Linked DNA regions of Homo sapiens. The protein of the gene in region 3 purifies or fractionates together with the protein of the main gene of each other region. This does not show direct contact. Each region holds a gene or a part of one and is shown on either strand. Other genes may lie near its edges. The genes, in order: PWWP3A, YEATS2, NMNAT2, ZNF507, ZNF318 and SPRYD3.

Region 1 (5,053 bases), on a different chromosome or scaffold from region 3:
TGCCTTTCTCTGGTGCTGCGGCCGGTGTGCTCTCCCCTATTTCCAGGTCTGCTGGGGCGCACATCAGAGCCAGCAGCCGTTGTTGATCTCTTTTGATCCAGGGCAGCCCTATTGCTGAGAGGGGTTGCTAGCTAAGCAATTGTTATAATTTTCCTTTACAGGGAGGTCACTTAGTAAGGACAATTTGGCATCTCATACTCTTTCGTAAAAAATTATTTTTAGTCAGTCACAGTGGCTCATGCCTGTAATCCCAGCACTTTGAGAGGCTAAGGTGGGAGGATCCTCTGAGCCCAGGAGTTTGAGGCTGTAGTGAGCCATCATTATGCCACTGCACCCTAGTCTGGGTGACAGAGCAACACCCTGTCTCTAAAAATAAATATTATTTTAAAACATTGTTAAGGCCTGGTGCGGTTGCTCACGCCCATAATCCCAGCACTTTGGGAGGCCGAGGCAGGTGGATCACGAGGTCAGGAGTTCGAGACCATCCTGGCCACCATGGTGAAACCCCATCTCTACTTTAAAAAAAAAAAAAAACCAAGCATGGTGGCACGCGCCTATAGTCAGTCCCAGCTACTCAGCAGGCTGAGGCAGGGGAATCGCTTGAACCCGGGAGGTGGAGGTTGCAGTGAGCTGAGATTGTGCTACTGCATTCCAGCCTGGTGACAGAGCGAGACTCCGTTTCAAAAAAAAAAAAAAATATTACACATCCTGTAAAAGTTACCATCCTAACCTTCTTAAGTGTATGGTTCGATGGCGGTGAGCACTTTCACAGTGCTATGCAGCCGGTACTGCTGCTCATCTCCGAACTTCATCTTTCCAAACTACAGCTCTGTCCCCATCAAACAACTGCCCTCTCATATATATATAATATATATTATATATATAAAATATATATAGCCATATATATTTATATATAATGTATATTATATAAAATTTATATATTATATAAAATATATAAATTTTATATATAATATATAAAATCATATAATTTATATATTTTATATATAAAATATATATTATATATAAAATATATTATATATAAAATGTATAATTTTATATATTATAATATATACAATTATATAACAATTTTATATATTATATAATATATAATTGTATATATTATATATAAAATGTACAATTTTATAATATATAAAACAATTTAATATATAATATATATAAAGTATGTATACTTTATATTATATATAAAATATATAATTTTATATATCATATGTATATGTAGACATACACACACACACATATGTATTTATTTATTTTTTTTTTTTTGAGACAGAGTCTTGCTCTGTCACCCAGGCTGGAGTGCAGTGGCACAGTCTCGGCCCACTGCAACCCCCCCACCGTGCCTTGGTTCAAGCGATTCTTCTGACTCAGCCTCCCGAGTGGCTAGGATTGCAGGTGCCCACTACCACGCCTGGCTAATTTTTGTTATTTTTAGTAGAGACAGCATTTCACCATCTTGGCCAGGCTGGTCTTGAACTCCTGATCTCGTGATCCACCCACCTCGGCCTCCCAAAGTGCTGGGATTACAGGCGTGAGCCAAAGTGCCTGGACTCTCTGTCATACTCTTTTTTTTTTTTTTTTTTTTAGAGACAGAATTTAGCTCTGTCGCCCAGGCTGGAGTACAATGGCATGATCTTGGCTCACTGCAAGCACCACCTCCCGGTTTCAAGCGATTCTCCTACCTCAGCCTCCTAAGTAGCTGGGATTACAGACATGCGCCACCACGCCCGGCTGTTTGTTTTTTTTTTTGTTTGTTTTTTTTTTTTTTTGGTATTTTTTGTAGAGACAGGGTTTCACCGTGTTAGCCAGGATGGTCCTGATCTCCTGACCTTGTGATCCGCCTGCCTCGGCCTCCCAAAGTGCTGGGATTACAGGCGTGAGCGACCACACCCAGTCCTCTCTCTCATATTCTTTAACACACAATGATTAATTACTAAAATGAAGACTCTTGTTTTCTGAAGGGAAAAAGAAATATTTGACAACCAGCTCCTTGAAGAGCGGAACCGGCGCCGTCGGTGAGGGAGCAGCCGGCTGTGCTGTCAGCGGGGCCTGGCGGTGGAAGCGCCTCCAGTGTGCATGAGCGTGTCTGAAGATGGGGGGCTCAGGGGGCACGTTTGCGTTTGGACCTGTCTGTGCGTTCTCCTGCGTGGCAGTCCTGATTTCCATGCTTCTGGAGAATCCATTTCGTTAACACTGAAAGCCAGTTCTCTTTTCCTGGCAGTTTTTTTCATTTTATTTTTGGCATTTTTTACAAGATACCGTTCGGGAAAGGCTTTTGAAAGGACGGAAGCGTATTCACTGTGCGCCAGTACTCCTGGCTGTGCTGTGGTTTCTCCCGACGTGCACATCGATCTCGTATGTGTGGCATCTGATATTAAACGGGAGGTTTTAAGAAGCGTCTGCCGTGATCATGGAGCTTCGGAAGCGGGAATGGTTCTTCCGGGTTTGCTGTTTTGTCTGTTTCCCCCTTGTGTGGTTTCCGCCTGCGACAGTTCCAGAATTTGCTCTCCCACTCAGTGTGCTCTGCAGCTGTGAGGAAACAGCCTTCGTTAGAGGCGGGAGCAGAGACGAGCCGCTGCTCTGTGTCGTGTTTGCTGTGGCCGCAGGGAGAGGAGCAGGACACGCACCTTTCCAGGGGCCTCTGTGTCCCGCACTGTGTGTGAGTGGACCGCAGCGCGCAGCCACATGCCCTGGCTGCCATGGGCCAGACCGCCTCCACCTCCCCCGCCCGCCTGGCCTGTCCTGAGTGCATTTCCCTGCACTGTGTCGTCACTGCACAGCCAGTCACCGCGGTCTCAGTCATCGGCGCGGATGGCTATGCTGGGGTCCCAGGGTGGCCGCAGCAGTCAGGGTCACTGTGGGAGCCCTGGGGTGGAGTGACAAACCGCATTGTCCTGTGCCCGCCATGGCAGAAGCGCAGCCTTTGTATGGAGGCCCAACCGCGCTCCCGTCTGGAGAAGCGGCTTCCGGGGTGTGGCTGCCGGGTCGGCTCTGGTCCACAGCACGGTGCCGGGGCTGCAGGTTGTTGAGGGCTGTGACTCCGTGGGGCTCAGCCAGGCTCCAGCAGGGTCAGACGTGCTGTTAAGAGCAAAGCCACAGACGATGACTTGTCCATTCTCAGTGGATGCTCCAGGCTGTGCCTACACAGCAGTGCTGGTGACATGTCCAGGGTTCCAGGGCCCGGTGGCCTGGGAGCTGCTTTCTCCCCACTGGCTGGGCTGCATCTGGCCCTGGCTGGAGGCCTTGCTTTGAGGGGCTGTGACCCTCTTCCCCCAGGCCCTCCCCAGCCGACGACAGCCACCGGAGAGGAGATCGGAACACGATTGTCTCAGATGCAGGGCGCTGTGCGGGACGAAGCCGCAAGGACTCTCGTATCGGGCCCTTGGGACTCGGGAGGTGCCAGAGGCGGCGGCTGCTCTGGACCTCGGTGTTCACTGACCTTTGTTTCACTTGCCTCTGCTCGACTCCGAGAGCAGGAAACCCGGCCGTGGCCTGGCAGCTCCGCCTCCCATGCCCGCACGCTGGGGTCTGTCTTGTCTGGAGCAGTGGGGCACACCCCGGAGGAGGCGGGGGTCAGGGCTGTCGGCCTTGGCCCCCTGCTGGTCGCTGTTTCGGGGACTCGGGGCGGCCAGTACCACCGCCTGAGGCGGGGCTCAGCAGCGTTGCATGTACGGGCCTCGTACTGCCTCATGGAAAATCCTCCGGAGCCGCCCTCCATTGTGGGTTCCTGAGAGTAGGACACATTGCCATGGTTTTGTGGGAATCACGCGCCCCTGATGGAACTTTTCTGCTGTTGTGAAGTACTTTTATCCATTTGCTTCTCTGCTGACCTTGCCAAGTTGTTCGAGGTGGAATTAAACACCTCCCAGACCTCTGGCTTGTCTTTTCTGAACCCCCAAACACATCCCACTGCATGGGTTGTCCAAGCTTGGAAATGGGAGAGTGACCCTGCCATCCCCAGGGACATGGCCTGGCCTTGGGGTGGATTCCCACCTCACTGGCGGGCCTAGGGTGCTGTTTAAACAGCAGCCAGAGGCTGGGCGCGGTGGCTCACGCCTGCAATCCCAGCACTTTGGGAGGCCAAGGCAGGTGGATAACCTGAGGTTAGAAGTTCGAGACCAGCCTGGCCAACATGGTAAAACCTCATCTCTGCTAAAAAAAATTAGCGAGCATGGTGGTGGGCGCCTGTAGTCCTAGCACCTGGGGAGGCTGAGGCAGGAGAATTGCTTGAACCCGGGAGGCAGAGGTTGCAGTGAGCCGAGATCACGCCACTGCACTCCAGCCTGGCCACACAGTGAGACTCCGTCTCAAAAAAATAAACAGCAGCCAGGGGCCTCACTGGGGTTCATGCCTGTGGCCCCAGCTACTGGGGAGGCTTAGATGGGAGGAACACTTGTTTGGAGGTCAAGGCTGCGGCTCCAGTGAGCCGAGATCACGCCACTGCACTCCAGCCGGAATGACGATGAGCACCTGTGTTGCAGCATAGCCCTGCCCAGCAGGTGGAACCAGAATGTGCCAGAGGCCCCCTTGTGCGTCCCACCCCGCCTGCACCCTCTGCCCTTACTGTCCTGTGGGCTCTGAGGGTGTCAAGGCCGCTGGGACAGGCCCTGCCTGGGTGCTTCCCTCAGTAATGGGGGGTCGTGGGTGCTCTGGGTTGTCAGCCGGGCAGTTGAGTGGGAGTCAGGGGTGCTGACCTCACAGGCACGGCCAGTGAGGAGCATTCCGGGGCCCTGAGGATGCCAGCATGGGTGGTCCTGGGCTCGCCCTCTCCACAGCATGGCTGGCGTTCCTCGACTGCCGCCGGAGCCCCGGGAAGACAGGCTTGACCCCGTGCACACACGCAGGGAGACGCCAGGAGCCCTGCCCTCAGAAGCCTGCACGCTTTGCCTCTCTTCTGGCAGCTAGCTAACCCTGCATCCCCACCTGAGCCTGTCCCTGGCACTGAGGACACTGGACCTGTGTCACTGGGGTGGGGTGTCCTGGGTCCTGCTGGGTGCTGAGTGTCTCCATGCCAGGAGCTCCCGCCTCTACCATC
Region 2 (5,067 bases), on a different chromosome or scaffold from region 3:
TTTGGGAGTCAAGGCAGGAGGATCACTTGAGCCCCTAGGAGTTTGAGACCAGCCAGGGCAACATAGCAGGACCTTGTCGCTACAAAAATTACAAAAATTACCCGGGTGTGGTAGCTCGCCTGTAGTCCCAGCTACTTGGGTGACTAAGGTGAGAGGGATCACTTGAGCCCGGGAGGTTGAGGCTGCAGTAAGCCATGAGCACACCACTGCACTCCAGCCTGGGCAACAGAGCCAGGCCCTGTCTCAATAAAATAAAAAGAAAAGTTGTTCTCTGCCCCCAGCCCCATTTATATAGAAAAACAGAAGCTCCACCCCTCCTGTCCAAGGAAACCTGGAGCACAGAGGTGGGGTTACTTTAAGACTTAGGGCCGGGCTCAGTGGCCTCCCACTTTGGGAGGCTGAGGCAGGAGGATTGTTTGAGCCCAAGAGTTCAAGACCAGCCTGGACAACACGGTGAAACCTTGCCTCTACAAAAAATGCAAAAATTAGCCGGGCATGGTGGTGCATGCCTGTAGTCCCACCTATTCGGGAAGCTGAGGAGGGAGGATTGCTTGAGCCCAAGAAGTTGAGGCTGCAGCGAGCTGTAATCATGCCACTCCTCTCCAGCTTGGGTGACAGCGCAAAACCCTGTCCAAAAAAAAAAGGGGGGGCAAGTCCCAGTTTTGCCATTAAGCTTCTTGAGAGCCTAATGCAGGATGGCCTCTCCTTTCTCTCATCTCCTGCAGCGCTTAATATCAACAGCATGAGGGCTTGTCTGACTTCGCTGTGTAAGCTACTCGGAGAGCAGAGACCGTGTTAATGATCCCCGGGCTTCACTGACATTGTGTGGAAAGCACAGTACTTGCACATACTAGGCTTCCTTTTAATCTGACTGATTCCAAACGGCCCCTAACCTACAATGGTTTGACCTGTGATTTGATGTTGTGACTTTACAATGGTCTGAAAGCTGTAGGCATCAGCACATACCTTGACTTACGATGGCCTTGTCCAGATAAGGCCATCGTAAGTTGAAAATATCCTAAGTCAAAAATGATATTTTCAACTTACGATGGGTTTTTCAGGATATAGCCCCAGCCATCATAACTTGAGGAGCAGCTGGAGCTTGTTAGAGCCCAGTCAGTAAAACAAAAGGCCAGGAGCTGGGTGCCCTTAAATCTTGTACCTGGTGTGGACCTCACACACTCATCCAGAAAGTGGAAGGGCACTAGTGCCCTAGATCTGGCCTTGAGGTCCTCACACTCCTGATTAGGTTTTGTATAAATCACCTTATTAGAGACTGGACCCATAATATACATTGAAATGTTAACAGTCCTGCTCTCTGAGCAGTGAGAATAGGGGTGATTCTTTTTATTTTCTTCACTCTGCATTTCTAAATTTTCCAGATTTGAGATGAGGAAAAATCAGGTCAGTCCTTAATACTCAGAGGGAGGGGGATGACCTGGTTTTTGGTGGCAGAAGTGAGAATTCCTACTCTTTCATCTTAGATGGCAGTTACCTTACATAGATCACACACAAGATGCCTGTGTTTATGCCTTTCTCCCTCGTGAATTACTAGTTCTCATCATTATAGATCCATAGAATGTTAGAACTGGAAAGAAGGTCAGCTCCCCTGATGCTTATCCCCCTTCCTCAGACCATGGGTCTCTTGGAGACGGAAAGTCCTCTTCCGTTGGCCCCACAGCTGTTGTAACACTGCTTGCCTGTCATTTAGAGTGCCCATCATCATTCTCCTCTGCTGACAACCTCTGCCGCAAACTGGAGGACCTGCAACAGTTCCAGAAAAGGGAACCCGAGAATGAGGAGGAGGTGGACATCCTCAGCCTCTCCGAGCCAGTGAAGATAAACATCAAGAAGGAGCAGGAAGAGAAACAAGAGGAAGTCAAGTTCTACCTGCCACCAACCCCAGGGTCTGAATTTATTGGGGATGTCACACAGAAGGTAGGGGTTGTGGTGTTAATAGTTCATGCAGCAGACCAGCTCAGAGCTAGATGTTCAGACGTTCAGCTTCACAGACCCAGACCCAGGTGTTCAGCCTCACAGACACAGACTCAGACCCAGACTCTTCTGGTGCCGTAGATGCTTGACTTCCTTCTGCCTGGTTGACCCAGGTGTGCTCTCAGGGCTCCCACCGTCCCACATCAGAGCCCTTGGGCAGAAATGCTAATTACATGTGAAAACATTGCTTGTTGAACGCAGACGTGAAGCAAAGCTGGCTAGATAGAAATGGTTGATTACTCTTCATCTTGTTTTTCTCATCTGCCTCAGTAGAAGCACCTTTCCCTCATGAGGCACGTCGTACTCTTTCTGAGTTGCACGTCAGCGCGTAATCCTCCCCTGATGTGTTGATAGCTCCTGAGTGCCCCGCCTGTGGTGCAGATGGCGTGCACCTGCCTTACTATACAGGAGAGAGGTATTTATCCACCCTGCTGGAGCCTAACAGCTCTTCAGCATCTGCCAGTTGCTCAGGGCCCAAGGTGAAAGACAGTGTGCTTTCATTGGATGCCATGAAGAATGGGCAAGATGCAGTTTCCAAGTGCAAACAGGACGTTGGAGTCTGATTCCAGACCTTTCAAAGTGTTGATTGCGTATCAGAACCCAGGCAGATCCCAACCATGTTCTCCCACGAAGGAGATTTGAGAGATTTTAATAGGATTATAGTCATATTTTAAATATCAGCCAGAAATGTGGAAAAACAAGATAACATTCTTCTAGATGTTATATTCCGTGTTCCTTTCCCGTGAATTTTGCCCAATATGTTTGCAGAGTCCTCCTTCCAACCAGGCATCGCTTTGCATGTCAGGGAGGTATGCTTGTTTGGAGAGAGGCTGTTTCTAAAGCAGCGATACGAACAAACGGCTTTCTTCTGCTTTTCCAGATTGGGATCACCCTGCAGCCCGTGGCACTCCACAGGAACGTGTATGCGTCCGTGGTGGAGGACATGATCCTGAAGGTGGGTGCCTGCAGGGGCCGCCAGCCAGGAAGGATGGTTGCATCCCAGGCGGTTTGGAGTAAGGGGCAAGGACAGAAAAGGAACAAAGATAACAGGCTTTAAAATGTCTCGTCTTATTTGGGCTTAAGTTCTCTCTTTTTGTTTTTTTGTTTTTTTTCCTTCTGATTTTTAAATGGACTAAGTTATGTTTCCTCTGAGTCATGTGGTTTCAGGTGCCTCCTAAGACGTATTCTGGGGGTGGTGGTCAGTGTGCTCGTTGCTTTAGGAGGTGGCAGAGACAAAGCCTATGGTTTTCTGTACACGTCACAACAGCAAACAGCCCCAACTGTCCTGACCCTGGCAAGGGGACGAAAATGCCGCAGCCTCCTTCCCCAGCCTGATCCTAGCTCAGCAGTTCCTTTCCTCGTGGATCCTCTCCAAGAATAGGGATACCTCCGTAACAACTGCTTTCCTTAAATACAATGTCTAGGGCTGGGCGCGGTGGCTCATGCCTGTAATCTCAGCACTTTGGGAGGCCGAGGCGGGTGGATCATTTGCAATCAGGAGTTGGAGACCAGCCTGGCCAACATGGTGAAACCCCATCTCTACTAAAAATAAAAAATTAGCTGGGCTTGGTGGCGCTCACCTGGTAATCCCAGCTACTTGGGAGGCTGAGGCAGGAGAATCGCTTGAACCCGGGAGGCGGAGGTTGCACTGAGCCAAGATCGCGCCACTGCGCTCCAGCCTGGGCGCGAGAGTGAGACTCCATCTCAAAATAAATAAATAAATAGAATAATGTCTGATTAATGAAAATCACTCCAATTCATAATTTCTCAGAATCATGGCCTTTATCATTATGGTCTATTATTGAGGCCTTTAATTTTTTCTTAAGGACTTTTTAATCCCTAGTTGCAGTGGTTTCAAACATTTGGGGTAAGGGATGGGGTTAAATGTGTCCCTTCTTGCCAGCAAGCAGATGGCCATTTGAAGAATAACAGCATCTTCCATTGTAGGCTACAGAACAGCTGGTGAATGATATCCTGAGACAGGCTTTGGCAGTTGGATACCAGACAGCTTCTCACAACAGGTATTACTATCTCTGCAGTCTGTGGTGTGAGGCTTACACCTCTTTCCTAACAGTTGAATTGCCCATGAAGGTGTTTTATACTTACATCAATCCAGTAGGAGATGGAGTGAGTGCTTAGGACACTCTTAGAGCCAGATGAGCTCAAGGGTCTGCTTTGTCATTTTTAGAGAACCTCATGGTTGTGAAAGCTCACTCAGCTTTGCTCAGAGGTTTATATCCTCCTCATTACTTCACAGACACCTAGGACTCTGTTTTATTACAGGGTTGAATAAATATTAGCTTTGCAATTAAAGATAACAGTGTCCATTACATGTCAGACACGAGGGCCAAGCGTTGCATATATTACCTAATTTGTTTTTCATTGCAGAACTATTATTCTCTTTTTAAAAATCAGGAAACCGGGCTTTGAAAGGTAATTTTACCCAGCTTACCCAGCAAATACAGTGTAGACCTGGACTTCCGACTCAGGTCTCATTGGCTCTGAGGCCCCTGGGCTCGCCACTGCTCTTTGCTGACTCGTTGTCTTTGATTAAGACACTGAGTTTCAGTCTGTTCCTAGGCCCTGAAAGGATGGTAGATAGGCCACATCTGCTTTTCTTTCGGAGGAAACAAATATTATTTTATTGCATTATGCTAAAGGCTGTCACAGATTTATAAAATTGTAGCAAAGTGCCTGAGGACATGAAGGGCCTAAATCAGAGGAATAGTAGATGAAACTTCACAGGAATATATCAGACAACATAGGCGTCTTTAGAGAAAAGGAAGGGGAACCAAGAGTTCCGGTCCTGCTGCCCACTGTCCTGCTTGGACCCACAAGTGAGCCAGGGCCTCCTGTGGCCCCTGCTTACCTCTGTGCTCCCTGTCCTGGAGGGGTAGAGTGACTTAGGTGCTTTTGATGGAACGATTAACATCACGCCTGGCCTGGCGTGGCTCCGTCTCCCGTCTTTCTAGGAGATGGGAAATAAGGTCCCAGAGTTTTGTGGTGCTTTGACTCAGCTTTCGGTCTGCTGAGACTCACTCACAAATGTGTCATTCCGTTCTGCCATCCGCT
Region 3 (3,322 bases):
TGACTGAAGGTGAAATAAGAACTGATAATCACAGCAGGATTGAACAGTTAACAAATTGTTCACTTTTGCTTGTTTACATTGCCAAAGCAAATTGCGAGTTTAACAAGTTCTGTTTTAGTTAAGATCTTTCAAGCTAAAAAGTTGTTCAAGTTTTTCATTTTCACAAATATAATTTTATTTCATAAAATACTAATTTCATTGAGGAGCCAAAGTTAACCAACACTGGACTATGCAAATTAGTCAAGATGTAAGATTTAATGTTTCAAAACTAAGAAAACGGAGGCACAATTTACAAATTTGCTAATTATTCTTCCCTTTATCATCCTTGGATGTGGCTGTACATACTTTTATATAACACATGTGGCATCAGCTGAACCAGGCAGGAAACTGCTTGTTCTAAGTACATTTTTACAACTGTTGTCTCCTGTCAAGTAAAATTATGAAGAAAAAGTGATTAATGCTGCAATTCACAGAGAAAGTTCTTGACCAAGACACAAGACTCTTGTAGCATTGTCTTATTTATTAACATAATTGAAACATTTTGCATAAAACTCTTGCCCATGACTATTCTAGCAACAAAATTGTACTCAAAATATTTCACTGTGAAATGGTATTGCAACTTGAATATCATTTTTTATTAATGAATTGATTTCCATAAAGCAAATCTTACTCTTAAAATGGCAGATTATGTGATCAAAAAGCGATTCAAAAAAGCTTCCCCCTCCTCATGCCAACCCTCAAGACCATGTGGATCCAGCTGAATCCTCAGCCCTGGGACTAGACTAAGGTTGAGGGAAAGAGCCGTTAACTCATTCCTAACCAGAACAGGCTAATAGGACACTCCAAACTCACACTACAAAGAGACCACATGAACAGTCGAGTGTGCTGGGCAGCTATAAGATGGTGCAGACTGGATGAATTTGGCAGAGCATATTCATCACCATTACTACAATGCTATTCCTAAGGTGTCCTAATTGTATGAGCTACAAAATCGGTCCCTGTTTCCATTCTTCCCATCTCACCTGTTGGCCCTCCTGCAGTAGGTAGCCTTGGGAGAGATCCTGAGCTTTTCATATTCTACCGTTTTATTTTTGCATTACTGTTTGGATGAGTAAAATGTAATAACATGCTTCTCTCTCTTAGTCCCCTAAAAGAGTGTGTGTGTGTGTGTGTGTGTGTGTGTGTGTGTGTGTGTGTCAGTTTGAGGAGAGTAGAATTGGGCTGGTAAGTACAAGTTTTTTCTCCCTGTAATTCTCTGCCTTTTGCTGTAGTTCAGTTATTATTGAGTCTCACTTTCTACTTAATTTGAACAGCAAGTTCTTTAATTCTTTCTGAGAAGCTGGAGCTTGAAACTAGAGAACATTGTTGAAAGGCTGGCCAAGCTGAGACAGGAAGAACGGCGTCTCTAGAAGCTCTAGCTTTGGGTTTCAGGCACTTCAGTAAGAGACTTTCCCCCTTGTTCCTATGTACATTCAAGGAAAATGAAAGCAAGAAGGCTCTAGAGGCTGCCTGGGGTTGGGGGTGTGTGACTGAGGTACCCACTAGCAGCACAGCCCTCCCAGAGGACCATTCCTTAAGGACAGAGTTATTGACAAAAAGGGTTTTCCTTCTGCCTGTTCTTACATCAGCCACTTTCAGAAAAATGGGAGAGACATTTTTTGCTGGTGAACAGGAAACAAAGCTCCAGACCCCTCTGGACATGATTGTTCCAGTCCATGCCTTTCTCACAACCTCTGAGCCATGCCAGTCTTGGATTGGGCTTTGCAGGAAGGAACAGGACCCCAGAGACAAAGTCGGGGGGTAGAGGTTATCCTGTTGGCACCTGGGGCACCACTTCAGACTCTGAATCATCTTTCTGGTATTGACTGTGGCTGGGTCATGGTCACAATGTCCTGTCCTGGATTTAGTTGTGCTGTGACCTTCCCCTAGCAAATGAAGAGTAGGGCGTGTGTGTGTGTGTGTGTGTGTGTGTGTGTGTGTGTGTGTGTGTGTGTGTTTGGGGGGTAGGGGGTGCGGCGATGGGAATGGATGATTCTATCCAAAAGAAGATTCACTTTCTTTTTATATTAAATAGGAAACCTGTTTTTAGTACAGTGCCTGTAATCCACAAAGATAAGATCTGCCCCACTTCATTCCTAGAAATCTACTTCTATGGCACCTGTTCTTTGTCTTAATTCATCTCACTTTCCCTCCCCACTCCCACATGCTTTCGGACTGCATGCTGAGAGTGCAGAACCAGCCTCATTCCTTCTCATGGGCTGTAGACCAAATGGGGCTTGACCAGAGCAGAGTGACAGAGTGGACCAAGAAACAAAAGAAATCGAGCCTTCCTCAGGTCTGCTCACGTGGGTCCCATAAATTCCATCCATAACTCCAAGTCCTTAAACAAGCCATGTTTCCCCAGGAAATTCAGGCACCTGTTTTCCTTTGTTTCATTTCCTGGCTTATGACTGTTCTGCCTGGACAAGGCTGTTCCATCTTTCGCTCTCCAGCAATAGCATCATCCTGAGCACTCTGTGGGTCTTCCTTCACCTTCCACAAAGCAACTCTTTCTTGGATTGATGGAGTCCGCTTCTGGGATTTCTTCCAAGCTGCTGAGATCTCTTTATTTCTAAAGGAAACCTAACAGTGGCCTTCCTTACTATCACACCCTCCCCTGGGACTGGCATTACCATCCTATGTGTGGAGAGCACCTGGGACAGATATAATTTAAAAGAAAGATGCCAGGGTAAGGCTTGGGAAGTGTAGAAATCATATGGGCACCTGGTCAGCAACATGAGGAAATGGAGGGTGTGGTGTGACGGCCTAGGGGTCAGGGAAACAATATGTTCTTGTCAGGCCCTACACCTGCTGGCTGACCTGGACCAGCCATTTAATCCCATGGGCCTCTGCTCCCTCAACTTTTAAAGGAAAGTGTTGGATCAACTGAACTCTAAAGTTTTTTTCAGTTTATTATTTCATGATCCCTAGTCAAACACTGATACCCCAAAATAGGATTTTCCTTCCTTCCTCTGAAGATTATTTCAAAAAATCCAAGAGGAATAACAGACTTTCTGGATGCTGCTCTACCATGTTCTTCTGTTAAATCAAGTTCCTTTTCCCGCAATTGAAGGATGTTGCAGATGTGAAACGTGTGGTAAAGAACATTGTCTTTGCTTTCAGGTCCCACCTGGCCCTTTCTGGCCGTAGCTGGTACTAGATTTTGATAAAAGTATCCTAATACTCAGGGACTATTTCTCAAAGACCAGAATCCCAAGAGCCAGAGACTGGATGAGAGACACAAAGCACAAGACAGCAATTTCCTTATGGCTCTCCAAGCAGG
Region 4 (5,067 bases), on a different chromosome or scaffold from region 3:
TCATGCCCATAATCCTAGTACTCTGGGAGGCTGAGGTGGGAGGACTGCCGGAGGCCAGGAGCTGGAGACCAGCCTGGGCAACAGAGCAAGAGATCTCTCCCCCACTCTCACCCTACAAAAAAAAAGCCTAAGGCCTTTTCACCCAGTGCATTTTCTTTGTTTACCACTAAACGTCAGCTACCAACGCAACAAGAAAGGAAAAGCGGCCGCAAATTTTTAAGTGCTATGCAATGTATAATTCTTTCTAGTTAACTGACAGGTTACAGGGACAAAGGTTATGACTGACATGAATATGCAGCTCTCCGAAACGCAGGAGACATGGATCCAACGAAAAGTAGCCATGTTACTAAACTCACTCTGCAACAACAGGGCTGAGTAATTCAAGTTGGGGTAAGCTTATGTCAACACGAGTTGAGTGACTTGATCATATAAAACGATTTCTTGAAGATATTCAACGCTTCATGTACTTGTCTGTCAGCATACAGTCCACAGGCTATTCACACTCTGCTTTATATTCAGAAACAAAGCAAGCATGGAAGCTCATGAAAAAGGCAGAGCAGGAAGAACTGTGTGTCTCTTGGCAGGAAGAAAGCTTAGGTAGAACACCTGTATACACCGCATAAAAGTAAAATCCGTGGTATTATACAAAGGAAAACCCACACTGAAATTTCAACAAAGAAAATCCTTAAGTTAAATTTACGGTTTCTAAAATTGAAATTTTCTTTTGCTAATAACTACTGCCAAGCAGAACAAAATGTCCTAATTTCCTGGTATAAATCTATAACGTTAATATACACACTAATCATAATTATAATCTAAGTATTGCTCTTAATTGGTAGGTTAAAAACTTGGACTTGATTATAAATGGCACTGTTCCAAATACAGTTTTAAAAAAACCCTAAAAAATGAAGTGTGAAATATTGGATAATGGTTTTGTGTGAGAAATATTACAGATCAATGACAACTAATAAAACTGACAGATGGAAAAACTTAATATAGCACAGAATGAGAGCCTGTGCTACTTCAAGCAACTGTTTCCAATGGAAAGAATATTGGATTTAAAGTTCAAAAACTTGGGCTTAGTCCTCGCTCTGCCACTTTCTACCAGTATGATCATGGGTAAATTATTTTGCCTCTTGAAGTCTCAGTTTTCTCATCTACAAATTGGAAATGCTAGAACCTCACAGCATAGTTTAGTAAGTCCTATATTTTTCCTTTAGCAAAGTCTGTACTTTACCTGCATGTCTGGGTAAAATCTCTGCCCTGCCACTAAGCTGTCTATTCCCTGAGGATAAGGATCTGCTTGTTTTGTTTAGACTGAATCCCCAGCGCTTGGCAAATTATAGGTTTCCAATAAAAAACAATTTAATTAGGTTTCATGGAGTAACACCATACGAAAGGGCTTTGCTTGCGGCTCTATTTGAGCTCCTGCGGTATCTGCTGACATACCCATCAGCCTCGTTCTGTCTTCTTCACTGAGTTGGATTCCTGAAGGGCAGTGATGCCTTTCACTGTACTCCCAGCACCTAACACAGTATCTAGCTCAAGACAGGCAGGCCATGCCTTTTGGCCAAGCAAATGTTAAGCTGAAACATGCCCTAAGGTATCTGTGCTATCTGAATGGCAGAGACTGAGGATCACAGAGGCACAAATCTCTCTTCTTGTTTAACAAGTTTACTAAATAGGTAAAGAAGTTTTAACAAAGCATGAATTATTATTACCTTATTTGTGAGCTAAAAATTTTTTCTTTGGCCTGACAACCAGATTTCAAAATATCTAATATTGAGTTAATAAAGTACCCATCCAGGTATAAGTATGCAGCCATTTGAACTGCTACAGTACTGAGAGAAAAAAGCAAATGGAGCCAGGTGGAGGAAAAGAGGCATGGCAGGCAATTTAAAAATCCATGCATGTAACCCTAAAAAAAAAGCATGAGCCACAAAGAAAAGATGCTGCAACATAAAATCTAGTAAACATTCATTAATACTGTAAAGTCTGAAGTGGTTATTTTAATTTTGAGCTGACACTTTAATCTTTTTATTAAAATTGTGAATTTTAATGTTAACTCATTTGGACAGTTTGAAATGTTTGCTTTTTAGGACGGTGCTAAAAAAGACATCTTCCAACACTGATATTAACTGCAGGTGGTGCTACTGAGTAGTATTTACTTCATCCTTTCATTAGGGATTTATGGTCCAATCATATCAGACGTTTTAATGTCTCCTTTAAAGGGGATATGGAAACATAATGAATTAAAATAAAAGGAGGCATTTAGGGCTATTTTGTAAAAAGGAAACAAAACTGTTTTAGCTCAGCCATCTACTGCAAAAACAGATGCTATATCATAAACTCCTTTTGTTTCAGAGAGTTTTACAGGGATGACATCTGTTTGACATGAGAATTTTGGTGCTACAGTGGTGTCAAAATCAGTTCTTTCAGAAGCATTCTAGAATCAGTTATGCTTTCTGGGGTATAATTTAATGAAACATTATGGTAAAACATTTCACTCTGTAGTCGTTTCTAACTTTAATTCTTAGCAAATCTAAAAGGGAAAGTCACCCCAATATGTCTTATCTCCCATAAACATTATGTGCCACACTGGAGACATTTAAAGTATATCAATTTAAGTGAGCTGAACCAAAGCGGCACAGCTTAGTACACTTTATCCTTAATTCTCCGGATGTGGCATCCGCCTTTTCATGGAGCTCTAATTAAATCTTTTGATTCTAATATTCTTATTACCAGAAACTCGGTTGACTGCTACTTAACTAGTACATAAAAAGATCTTGTGTGTCTGTGTGTGTGCTTTTTTTTTTTTAATAATGCAGATGAAATCTGGCAGTCATACTTGGGTAAGAATAAGATCACAGCGGGGAGCCCCAGTTAAAGTTTGGGGTGGGGGCCTACCATCTGCAAAAGCTCTGTTCTCAGTAGGTCAACTGGTGCCGAGAGAGGGAGGGGAGGCCTGTTTTCCATGTTGTAGCTTTTCTGGCTTGCTTTTCTGGCTTGCTGGTACATCACCTTCTAAGGGGCTCTTAAGTTTCAACTGAAGATGAATCCTTACTATCTAGGGCTTCTCACCTAGGACCTAGTAATCATCTGCTTCATTCAGTACTTGGCATTTCCTCAGAAACAGAGATCAGATTCACTCACATCCATGGTACAAAAATGGAGGAGAATATAGGCTTTTGCCCTGAAAATAACCAACCATGACAACTAAGGGCACTTTTATGTCATGTGCAAGTCACTGCAGCCTGCATAACAAAATACATAGATACCTTCCTGGACACATTTTCCATCAGCTGTATCACTGGAAATTCTTGGCTCATTAGAAGTTGCTATTGACAAGGTATCTGGAAGACTGTGCTGTTCTCTCTCATGGTTCCTCAATTGACTCTAAAAAGTGGAAAGAAATATGTAATTTTCAATAAATATACATGTCCAACTCTTAGGAGGCTGTAGAAGAACAGGTTCATTGCTTTCATGGCCTAGTACAACGAATTACCATATTTTAAAATCAAGTCTGCTAAAGGATCATTTGACACATTTGACAATTTATAGAAAGAAGTACATTAGCAAATCATAATCACATTCAACGGACAGTTCCTCTTCATATTCTCTGAAAGGAAGTCACCATTTTCTTAGGTGATTACACAGGGCGTGTCCGTATTTACTGAAACACTGGTAGGCCCAGAGGAGGAACGAGCAGAGTGTTCAGAATAATGCAACTTCACAAAAAAAAATCCAATCAGTAATCACCAGACTCCTAATTTTTCATTGAAATATCTAAATGTGTAAGAGATCTAACTGGAAGTGCTCCTCCAAGGACATCCTGTCTCCTCTACTTCCATTCCCATGAATCAAGAGCTCAGTAGCAAAAGAAACTCCTGGAGACTTCAGGAACTTGTCTTTGCAGCCTATGTGGACATCCTACTTGGAATTTCATGAGTGTAATCTGAGAAGCAGTGAACCTCAGACTCAAGGGCTTTCTTATTCCTGTTACCTTTTTTTTTGAGATGGAGTCTCGCTCTGTTGCCCAGGCTGGAGTGCAGCGGCATGATCTTGGCTCACTGCAAGCTCCGCCTCCCAGGTTCAGGCCATTCTCCTTCCTTAGCCTCCCGAGTAGCTGGGACTACAGGTGCCCACCACCATACCCAGCTAAGTTTTTGTATTTTTAGCAGACAGGGTTTCACAGTGTTAGCCAGGATGGTCTCAATCTCCTGACCTCATGATCTGCCCGCCTCGGCCTCCCTCCTGTGACCTTTTTACCACAGCTAGACCCCAGCTCTCGGTAATCTGAGGGAAAAAGTCTACCTCCTAGTTAGCCCTTAGGATAACATTTGTAATACATTTTCAAGGAGTCACCTGGCCCACTGAAGAAAAGTTCTAAACCAATGATTCAACGTTTCCTTTATAAAAGAATAGCACTTCATACAGGATATTGGTTTTGATAAGGTCAGCACTTAAGATAAAAATCAGACAGTCAAAATAACTCTTGAAAGTTCTTTACCCTGCCCATAAAACATGACACACATGGCTCTATTTCCATGACAGTACCTTTTAATAGGTCCGCCATAGCCCATTTTTCCTTCTGCAATGATACACATCACTGTTGGTTATGTAGAAGCTGAACTGAATGCCTGGCATTCTGGGGCCATATAAGATGAAAAATATGTATTTTTTTGTTGTGATGATGTACGGTTAAATTTGTTTAAGTCAAACGTATGTCAATACGTTAAGTCAAACGTATGTCAATCCACTATACACTCCCTACAATTCTCTTGCAACAGAAAATCAACACTTTAAACTATACACACTAAAACACAGAGGCTGTCAAGGAGGCAGCAGGCAGGGAAAAGGATTCTACAGCAGAAATTCTGAACAGTCCCAACTTTAATACTGGTAAGTTGGGATCCCCTTGGGCAACTTATCAAACTTTTCTGGGACCCAGTTTCCTTATCTATAAAATGAGGTGATTGGATTAGATCTACAAAGTTCCCTTCTCACTCTAAGATGCGAAGGTCCTCTGAAAGACTTCCTGAACCAATGCTTACCTTATAATGGAAG
Region 5 (5,067 bases), on a different chromosome or scaffold from region 3:
GATGATCTCTCATGTTGGTATTAATTACTGAGGAAACTATCTTCTGTAAATCTCAAGGGTATAGTAGCAGCACTAGCTACTTGTGAAGGTAAGAAATTGAAAAGTTTATGGGCTGAGCACAGTGGCTCATGCCTGTAATCCCAGCACTTTGGGAGGCAGAGGTGGGCAGATCACGAGGTCAGGAGATCGAGACCATCCTGGCTAACACAGTGAAACCCCGTCTCTACTAAAAATACAAAAAATACAAGGCATGGTGGCAGGCGCCTGTAGTCCCAGCTACTTGGGAGGCTGAGGCAGGAGAATGGGGTGAACCCGGGAGGCGGGGCTTGCAGTGAGCAGAGATAGCACCACTGCACTCCAGCCTGGGCAACAGAGAGAGACCCCATCTCAGAGGAAAAAAAAAAAAAAAAAAGAAATTGAGAAGTTTAAAGACAAAGGAAGTTTCTGCTTCTCCACTTACCCCTTAATAACAATGACTCAAAATATTGTATAGTTCTTAGTTGAAAAGGCAGTTAAATTACTGCATCTCCTGTCCTTTTTAACCTGGATTCCAAACAAGTAAGATTTTGGGCCCATAAGCCAATGACAAAGACAATTCTGTTTTAAGTGACATGTCTATGTTTAACATCTGTGAATAGATTTTTGGCCATATGGGTAGAGATCATGGTCTTATAGATCTCTTTATAGCTTCAGGACCTAGTACACTGTTTTGTACACAGAAGGCATTCCTACGGCTTTGTTAAAAGGAATGGCTGTCTCATGCTATGCTGCTTCCTACAATGTTAGTTCAGGGACACCTCTTCCTCAACTGAATGTAAGGAAACCACAAAGGTGGCAAAAAGGAAACATACCTTTTGCAGGAACAGTTATCTTGTCAGTGCGCTTTATGGCATCTTGCTTGGCCTCACTCTGGGTCTTTGAAGCCCAAGGTCTGTTGTAGGGATCCAGTGTCTATTTGTAAGAGGCAGAGGTGCTCACACAACAGCACTAAAAGCTCAATGACCCACTTTTCTCTTTTTTTTCCCCCATAATAAGACCAGGGGACCAGAAGCCCCCAGCTACCCACCCCCACCCCCTCTGCCAACTGTTTTAATGGAAATCACCTGTGGAAAAGGTAAACACATGTTAGAGCAAGTACCAGAAAAAGGTAAAATGAAACAAAAAAATCAGGTACTCAAGGAATCAAAAGAGGCAGAAACCTCACTTACACTTGTCATGGTGTTTAGTTACAGCCAAGTCCCCTGGACTGAGCCCTGGGGATGGTGTCTCCTTTGTTGGTGTCTCTTGGCTCTTCAGACTGGGGCTCCTGCCCATATGAGAATGTTTCCTTTTCCAGCTTTGCAATGCAGATAGGGGTATAGAAGTTTGAAGAGAGTGAGGGTGGGAGTGAAAATAACAGAGAGTAGGATACCAACCTGTGTGTGCTTCTTATTGTGCATATGAGTGAAGAAATCAAACATGGTCCCACAGATGGTGTTGCAGTCTTTGCACCAGTGATTGCCAGCATCATAATACTCATAAGCAGCAGTGGGCTGATCCAACTGCTTAGTGGCTGACTGGGGGCTTTCGGCAGGCTTGGGGCTCTTAGTACGAAACTTCTCATTGTTTACTTTTGATTCCTAGAGGGGAAAAATCTGTACTTACAAGGAATTCAAGGCAATCTAGACTTGTCTTCTGTTAGAAATAGTAAGTGGCCATAATAATAGAAATAGGGCCATATGACCATATTTCCAATGTTTAAAGCTGCACAAGTTGGGGGGAACCCTAACAGAAACATGTCTCTAAGACATAGAACTATTTGACTTCATAGTGCTATCACAGCATAAAAAGTAAATCATAATGGCAATATATTTACTTACATATCCTAAAATATCTCTAGAAGAACAGCCAAGGTTGTGGAAACATTGGCTGCCTCTGGGGAAGGGAAGTGGAGAACAAGGATGGGTAGGAGTCTCTTCACTGTATACCCTTTAGTAAATGTTGAATATGTTACCTATGCAACTAAACAGTTAAATTTGAAAATCATGACAGCTAGGGAGGGAAGAAAAACCAATATGGAAAAGGTAATTGACAGGCTAAGCAAAGCAAATGCAGAAAATAGGTGATAGTGAACTCATCACATGCATCCTGGTATGAAAAACTGGAGAGAAGGGTTGGTGTACATAGATAAAGTAGACTATACAACTACACATAGATAAAGTCATCTATGTAGAATGATTTAAAGGAATCTAGGAAAAACATTCCTAACTGCCTAAAATATCACTTTTAGAATTTAACAACTTTAGAGGCCAGGTGCAGTGGCTCACACCTGTAATCCCATCACTTTGGGAGGTCGAGGTGGGCAGATCACTTGAGGCCAGGAGTTCGAGACAGGCCTGGCCAACATGGTGAAACCCCATCTCTACTAAAAATACAAAAATTACCCGGGCATGGTGGTGTGCACCTGTATTCCCAGCTACTCGGGAGGTTGAGGCACGAGAATCACTTGAACCCAGGAGGCGGAGGTTGCAGTAAGATAAGATTGTGCCACTGCACTCCAGCCTCAGCAACAAGTGAGACCCTGTCTCAAAAAAAAAAAAAAAAAAAAAAAAATTTTAACACCGTTAACATGTATCCTTTTTAAAAATATATCAACTTCTTAATATTAAAGTTATCAACAGCAAATACTTTAATATGAATTAATTTATTACCAAGCTGGAACAAGGCACTCAGGAAATGAGAATTTTGGTTAATGTTCAGGAGTAAGGCACAGGAAAAAAAGATAATTTTTGCAACTCAGAGGCTCACTATGAATGGGGTTCTATAGTACACAAGATGAAGAGCTGGGTACCTGGAATATTGGCTCACGCAGGGAAAAAGGTAGGATACAGAAAGGGAAACAATTGGGGCTTCAAAGATACTCTTTCCCTACCTGAGTCCTATTCAAGAATCACTAAAGAAATCACACCAGACAGGCAGGGGATGGGAGAGTTCATACACTCCTGGTGGGAGTATTAACTGGCACCATCTTCTAGAAGATAATCTAGGAATACATTACATACCTCAAAATACTGTATACCCTTTAACCCAGCAATTCACTCCTTGACATTTATCCTATGGAAATTATCATGTCAAACAACAGGTGATTTGATTGGTTAAATAAATTTTGCTTAACCATGCAACCAAAACAACAAAAAATAAGGTTGTTAAAAATGGTATTATAGAAGTGTATTTACTGACATGGAAAGATGTTCATGATATACTGAGAAAACTAATAAAATACACTTGAATAATCAACAAAGATATGTAAATCGGCATACAGCGTTGAATATCACTTTATCCAAAATACTTTCTCTAACCACTCTATACTCCTTATCCTGTTTTCTTTTTTTAGGCACTTCTCATTACCTAACATGGACTTATTTATTTATCATCTTCTGCTATTTAATGAGAATATGAACCTTGTCTATACTGTTCAGTGTGATACTTCCCATATCTAGACCAGTTCCTGACACTTTATTGGTGACCAATACATATTTGTTAAGTGAATTGATGGACAGAATTAATACTTTGGTGTATGTATTTGGAATAACATACACCAAGGTATTAATAATAAATTAATGTATTTGGAATATATAATAATACCTTGGTGTATGTATTTGGAATAACATACACCAAGGTATTAATAATATTATACACCAAGGTATTAATAACAGTGGTCTCGGCTGGGCCCAGTGGCTCATGCCTGTAATGCCAGCACTTTGGGAGGCTGAGGTGGGCAGATTACTTGAGCTTAGGAGTTCGGGACCAGCCTTGGAAACATGGCGAAACCTCAACTCTACAAAAATACAAAAATTAGCCAAGTGTGGTGGTGGTGAGCACCTGTAGTCCCAGCTACTGGGGAGCCTGAAGTGGGAGGAATGCTTGGACCTGAGAGTTGGAGGCTGCAGTGAGCCATGACTGTGTCACTGCACTCAACTTAGGTGACAGAGTGAGACCCTGTCTCAAAAAAAAAAAAAAAAAGTAATAATAACAGTTGTCTCTAGGTAGATGAAATTACAAGTTTGTATGTGCTTTTCTGAAATGAACAGAAAGGGAAAGAAAATCTCAAACCAACTATACATTTTAAAGAGAGGTAAAGAAAGAAGAAATACCAAGGACAGGTAGGAAAGAAAGGCTGTGGACATAATATTCCTTACTGCTGAGATGAAAACTGAATTGTAACATATCCGTTAGTTTCAGAGACCATGAAGACGCACCCAAATCAAGATGACAGATTATCATTGGGTTCGTACATGAATAGAAATCCAATGTATAAGTCAATTACAAAGGACCAGAGCTTTTAAATTCTTCTCCCATCAAAGGCCCTACCTAGACTGAAGACCCAGGTATAAAAGACTAGGCCTACCTGGTTGAGAAAGAAAACTCTCCTAGGAAGACATGGAAAAAAATAGAGCTTGGGTGATAACACAGAATATATTCTCTTTCCTACCTCTCAATATTAACTGAGGATGTACTATGTGCTAGACATATTGTATGCAATGGGAAACACAAAGATAAAAAAGATTCCTCTTTTATCCTCTCGGGCCAGGTGGGGTGGCTCACATCTGTAATACTAGCACTTTGGGAGGCTGAGGCGGGAGGATCATCACTTGAGCCTAGGAGTTCAACACCAGCCTGGGGACGGGCGCAGTGGCTCATGCCTGTAATCCCAGCACTTTGGGAGGCGGGGGCAGGTGGATTACCTGAGGTCAGGAGTTCGAGACCAGCCTGGCCAACATGGTGAAACCGTCTCTACTAAAAATACAAAAATTAGCTGGGTGTGGTGGCACACGCCTGTAACTCCAGCTACTCAGGAGGCTGAGGTAGGAGAATTGCCCAGAAGACAGAGGTTGCAGTGAGCGAAGATCACGCCACACGCCACAGAATAAGACTCTGTTTCAAAAAAAAAAAAAAAAAAAAAAAAAAAATGCTGGGCAGGGTGGTTCACGCCTGTAATCCTAGCCCTTTGGGAGGCCGGATCACGAGGTCAGGAGTTTGAGACCAGCCTGGCCAATATGGTGAAACCATGTCTCTACTAAAAATATA
Region 6 (5,067 bases), on a different chromosome or scaffold from region 3:
GCCTTCTCTACCTTCTGGGTCACAGAGGCTGAGGTGCTTTACCTAGGGCCCTGCTTTCTCCTCAATCCCCTTCTCCCCTTGGCAGGTTTGTTCTCATGAACAAGATGGATGACCTCAACCTGCACTACCGGTTTCTGAATTGGCGCCGGCGGATCCGGGAGATTCGAGAGGTCCGAGCTTTCCGATATCAGGAGAGGTTCAAACATATCCTTGTAGATGGAGATACTTTAAGGTGAGTTCAGGAGAATGCTTCCACATTTTCTTCTCTGTTCCAGATCTTAGAGAGGAAAGGGTTTTTTTTTTTTAACTTTTATTTTTTCAGAGAAGGGGACTGTGCACTGCACAGGGAAGGGCGATGCTCTTGACTCCAGAGGCCTTTCTTTTTCTTTTTTTTTTTTAAGACAGAGTCTCGCTCTGTCACCCAGGCTACAGTGCAGTGGCGTGATCTCAGCTCACTGCAACCTCCGCCTCCTGGGTTCAAGCGATTCTCCTGCCTCAGCTTCCCAAGTAGCTGGGATTACAGGCGTGCACCACCACATACGGCTGATTTTTTATATTTTTGGTAGAGACAGGGTTTCACCATGTTGGCCAGGCAGGTCTTGAACTCCTGACTTCAAGTGATCCACCCGCCCAGAGGCCTTTCTGAGTGGAGCAGTGTGTGCTGCTTCACCCTGCACTCACCTCTGCCTCTGTCACTGGGTGGCTCTGTCCTCATCCAGCAAGGAGGGGATCCAGCTGGGTAGGGGAAGGGATCACATCAGACACAGGAGGCTGCTGGGGTCTCAGAAGCTTCCTAGGTGCTTTGTTGAGAAGACTCCAGTGGGGTAACTGAGTCTTCTGCCACTGTCTCAGGGATTAGATCTAGTGAAGAGTGGCTGTTTCAGAGATAGTTGATTTCCTGTTTGGGGAAGGGCCATTCTATAGTGTACCCTGTCCACCAACTCCTGTATTTCCAGCCCCTTAGCTTGTGTGTGTTTCCTCCCTCTTTTCTGGCTTGAACCCCTTCCCTGACTCCTTCTGAGCCCATGCTCTCACAGAGTTCCACTGAAGGGGGAAGAAAGTAGTACTGTTTAACTAGAGGCAAGAAAGCTGAGGAGTGGGAACTGAATCACTGTCTTCCAATCGATGAAGGGCTTTGGTAAAGAGGATAGAGACCAGCCATTATTCTCCAGCTCCACTGAGGACAGAGCCAGAGGAAAAGGGCTGAAGCTGCAGCATGAGAGATTGAGGTTACACAGGGTTGTGAGACCTCTCTTAGGCAAGTAAGGGAGGCTCTACATTCTTTTCCTCCTGGAAATGAAGAAACCAGGCTTGCACTGGTCTGGTACGGGTTGGATTCCAGCTGGAGGCTGCGAGAGGAGTAGGGTGAGGTGACCTTAAGTATCTGGTTCTGATGTCTGCCGATGTACTGAAGTGCAGCCTGATGGATTCTCCTGTGTGCTGGCCCTTGCAGGGTAAGGGTGGGAGAAGCTGAGGCCCTCCCCCTACTCTTGGGCTAGGCTGCTAATGGAATTCCCCCCTCATTCCTCCTTCAGTTATCATGGAAACTCTGGTGAAGTTGGCTGCTACGTGGCTTCTCGACCCCTGACCAAGGACAGCAATTATTTTGAGGTGATCAAGGCAGTGGGTGGGCAGAGCAGGGGGTGAGCTTGGGGGTGAGATCATTAAGCCCCAAGAAGCTCCTTTACTAGATGTATGACCTGGGCCTTTTAATTTTCCATCAGGGCTGTCCTGTTGGCTGGGAAATAGGTGCAGGATAGCATGGCCCCTCATCTGAGAGATAGGTGCCCTGGAAACCTGTCACCCTGTCCCTTCTGCTCTCCTACCCCTTAGCTAGGTAGACTTTGACCCATATCCCAGACTTGACTCATGTCCCCTAACCCAAACCCACCATATAGGGACGTGAGTCCTATCTTTCTCCAAAGCTTTGGAGTAATTTTCTAAGTGAAATAGGCACCCACTCTCACCAATTGCCCCCTCTGAGTATCTTATCTTTTTTCCTGATTCCCATGTCCTTTTTCTTTTTGAGCCTCAGCGCCCTTTAATCTCTAAGTCCCCTTCCCCCACCCCCAGCAATTCATCCCATTTCCCAGCCCTGCTGACTGTGCCCTGCTTTCTTCTCTCCAGGTGTCTATTGTGGACAGTGGAGTCCGGGGCACCATTGCTGTGGGGCTGGTCCCTCAGTACTACAGCTTGGATCACCAGCCTGGCTGGTTGCCTGACTCTGTAGCCTACCATGCTGATGATGGCAAGTGAGTTGGCTCCTGTGCAACCCGGCCCTTTTCCTATGAATTTGGGAATCTTAGATCTGAAGAACTACCTTGGGCTGGCTTTTCCCATTGGGTGTTTCATAGACTTTTCTGGTCAGGACAGGGAAGTGGCCTGGCAGCACCCTTGAAGGCTTACAGACTAGAGGAGGGTGATGCTCACGCCAGGACGTAAGTGGGTACCATCACAGAATGACCAGGAGCAGCAAGATGAGGATGAGGCCTCTGCTGTCAGTGCTGGGGAGAAGTTGGGAGGCCAGGCTCGGGTCCTGTGTCTGTACTACTCTGTCTGTAGGCTGTACAATGGCCGAGCCAAGGGCCGCCAGTTTGGGTCAAAGTGCAACTCCGGGGACCGGATTGGCTGTGGCATTGAGCCTGTGTCCTTTGATGTGCAGACCGCCCAGATCTTCTTCACCAAAAATGGGAAGCGGGTGAGTGGGAAATAGTGGTGGGATTTACGTGGCTGAAATCTGCCCAAGGATTTGTGGGGAGTGATTAGGAAGAGTCTGCTGGCTGGGGCTTGCCCAGGGACCCTTGCACTGAGTTCCCATCTCCTCCAGTCCAGCCTCAGATTCTCCTGAAGTCTCTTGCGTGTAGGAGAAGATACTTCCCATGGCCAGAGGAAGCTGGGACATTGCCCAGATGACAGGCAGAGAGAGGCAAGTTAGTGGAGCAGAGGATGAGCAGGAATTGTGGGGAACAGAATTGGGTGATTTGGGGGAAGGTTTTGAGCAGATAAAAGAGAGGGGAAGATTATGGCCTGGCCATGTAAGCTGGAGGTCCTCTTTGGGTTTTGACTTGAGCACTTTTGGGGATATGTCCTTTCTGTGTCCTGTTTTCCTTGTTTCACGTCTCTTTCACTATCCTGTTCGTAGAGAGACTAGGCGTGGTGAGGAGATGGGACAGGAGCCAATAGTAGAGAGAGACACACAGCTCTCTCCCTTCTCTCCAACTCCATCTCCCACATTGGGAAATTGGTTTCTCAGGCCTTGGCCAAGGGGTCCTGCTGCCTTAGCATCTGCGCCTCGGCACTCTCCTGTCCAGCACACGTACTGAAAGTATTTGGCAGCAAGTCAGGAGACTTGTGTTTGTCTTCTAGCTCTGTACATACCTTGCTTAGCCAGGAGTACTTAGCACATTTGGAAACTTTTCTGCACCTCTGGGTTGCTTTTTTTTTTTTAATCTGTCAGTGTGTGTGATAATTATTGGTTGCATCATCTTTTTTTTTTTTTTTTTGAAATGGAGTCTCGCTCTGTCCCCCAGGCTGGAGTGCAGTGGCACCATCTCGGCTCACTGCAAGCTCCGCCTCCCGGGTTCACGCCATTCTCCTGCCTCAGCCTCCCGAGTAGCTGGGACTACAGGCGCCCGCCACCACGCCCGGCTAATTTTTTGTATTTTTAGTAGAGACGGGGTTTCACCGTGTTAGCCAGGATGGTTTCAATCTCCTGACCTTGTGATCCGCCCACCTCGGCCTCCCAAAGTGCTGGGATTACAGGCGTGAGCCACCACGCCCGGCTGGTTGCATCATCTTAAAAGTACCCTTGTGAGAATTAGGTGAGCTATGGAAAAGCAGGCCGGGTGGCAGCTCCGTCTTTCCCCCCACTGCAGGTGGGCTCTACCATCATGCCCATGTCCCCAGATGGACTGTTCCCAGCAGTGGGCATGCACTCCCTGGGTGAGGAGGTGCGGCTGCACCTCAACGCTGAGCTGGGCCGTGAGGACGACAGCGTCATGATGGTGGACAGTTACGAGGATGAATGGGGCCGGCTACATGATGTCAGAGTCTGTGGGACTGTAAGTAGCGGGTGGGAGGGTGGGAGGGGCTGGGTCGGAGGAGGCTGGGCAGAACACCTGTGGGCACATGGTCATGTCTGAATTGCTGGGAATGGGGAGTCGGGACAGTGTCCGTGTGGGGTTTGGCAAGATAGCCTAGGCTCTTGACATGAGTCCTTGAGTCCAGATCTGTGTTTTCTTTAGCACATGTTCTCTTTTCTTCACTTCCTCCTCTTCAGGGAACTCAGGTTCGCAGTTTGACCCTGGGAACAAGTAGTTCTGCTTTGCCTTTTTTGGTTCCTTCAGCTTCTGGTGTCTTCTACAGCCCTGCACAACTGCCTTTGAGGGGCTGGGGGTTGATCTGGAGGCAAAATGCCTGGCCCAGGCTTTTCATTCAAAGTGTTGTGGGGCAGGTGTGGTCAGAAGTCCACACATGTGGTGGAAGGTTCTTAGCCATCTTTTTTGAGGAAGTGTCAATGTCAGTTTCTATTGTCTTATCCCTGCATTTGATAGAGGATTAGAATGGAGGCAGATAAAGATTCAGTGAGCATCCTTACACCTCCAAACTTGCTTCATTTATCTTTTCCTCATACCTGCTTTAGTATGGATTTTAAGCTTCGTTGGGAAGCGTGTGGAGCTTGAGAAAGGGGAATTCTTCCTCCCCGGATTTTAAGTTTTGTTGGAAAATTCATGAACCTTGAGAAAGGAAAATTCTTCCTGTCTGCCTCAATACACTGTGCTGCATTGGGAGTGAATGGACGCCAAGTCCGGGATCTGGCCCTGACCTCTAGTGGGCTGCTCAGCCCTCCCACTTCGAATTGTCCCTCTCCTACCCCCTTGCTCCTGGCCTGGCCTTTTTCTCCACCCTCTGGCCTTTCCACCCCAACCCAGGCTGTTTTCAACTCAGTCTTTGATAACAAAACAGAAGCAGTGGGGGGTGGGAGCGGATTAGGAGCCAGGCCTCCCCCTGGTGGAGTGGAACTCAGGGAAAATGACAGGAAGTGTGCCCTCCTGCTGCTTCTGACAC

Evidence for each region.
Region 1: the proteins of NMNAT2 (region 3) and PWWP3A purify together in Homo sapiens (affinity purification with mass spectrometry; one large-scale study listed by BioGRID and IntAct). This does not show direct contact.
Region 2: the proteins of NMNAT2 (region 3) and YEATS2 purify together in Homo sapiens (affinity purification with mass spectrometry; one large-scale study listed by BioGRID and IntAct). This does not show direct contact.
Region 4: the proteins of NMNAT2 (region 3) and ZNF507 purify together in Homo sapiens (affinity purification with mass spectrometry; one large-scale study listed by BioGRID and IntAct). This does not show direct contact.
Region 5: the proteins of NMNAT2 (region 3) and ZNF318 purify together in Homo sapiens (affinity purification with mass spectrometry; one large-scale study listed by BioGRID and IntAct). This does not show direct contact.
Region 6: the proteins of NMNAT2 (region 3) and SPRYD3 purify together in Homo sapiens (affinity purification with mass spectrometry; one large-scale study listed by BioGRID and IntAct). This does not show direct contact.

What each region holds. Positions count from the first base shown.
Region 1 is NC_000019.10:1,374,540-1,379,592, forward strand, and holds the end of PWWP3A (PWWP domain-containing DNA repair factor 3A), read left to right. Parts: intron 1-1,605; coding exon of another isoform or gene 1,606-1,618; exon of another isoform or gene 1,619-1,979; coding exon 1,980-2,037; 3' UTR 2,038-3,890; downstream 3,891-5,053. UniProt on the Homo sapiens protein: Involved in the DNA damage response pathway by contributing to the maintenance of chromatin architecture.
Region 2 is NC_000003.12:183,805,155-183,810,221, forward strand, and holds part of YEATS2 (YEATS domain-containing protein 2), read left to right. Parts: intron 1-1,711; coding exon 1,712-1,938; exon of another isoform or gene 1,939-2,875; coding exon 2,876-2,950; exon of another isoform or gene 2,951-2,958; intron 2,959-3,575; exon of another isoform or gene 3,576-3,698; intron 3,699-3,942; coding exon 3,943-4,016; intron 4,017-4,864; exon of another isoform or gene 4,865-5,067. UniProt on the Homo sapiens protein: Chromatin reader component of the ATAC complex, a complex with histone acetyltransferase activity on histones H3 and H4. YEATS2 specifically recognizes and binds histone H3 crotonylated at 'Lys-27' (H3K27cr).
Region 3 is NC_000001.11:183,247,737-183,251,058, forward strand, and holds the end of NMNAT2 (nicotinamide/nicotinic acid mononucleotide adenylyltransferase 2), read right to left. Parts: 3' UTR 501-3,322; downstream 1-500.
Region 4 is NC_000019.10:32,354,945-32,360,011, reverse strand, and holds part of ZNF507 (zinc finger protein 507), read right to left. Parts: coding exon 5,055-5,067; intron 3,397-5,054; coding exon 3,279-3,396; intron 1-3,278. UniProt on the Homo sapiens protein: May be involved in transcriptional regulation.
Region 5 is NC_000006.12:43,341,261-43,346,327, forward strand, and holds part of ZNF318 (zinc finger protein 318), read right to left. Parts: intron 1,620-5,067; coding exon 1,416-1,619; intron 952-1,415; coding exon 852-951; intron 1-851.
Region 6 is NC_000012.12:53,072,280-53,077,346, reverse strand, and holds part of SPRYD3 (SPRY domain-containing protein 3), read left to right. Parts: intron 1-85; coding exon 86-232; intron 233-1,535; coding exon 1,536-1,611; intron 1,612-2,127; coding exon 2,128-2,252; intron 2,253-2,562; coding exon 2,563-2,698; intron 2,699-3,875; coding exon 3,876-4,061; intron 4,062-5,067.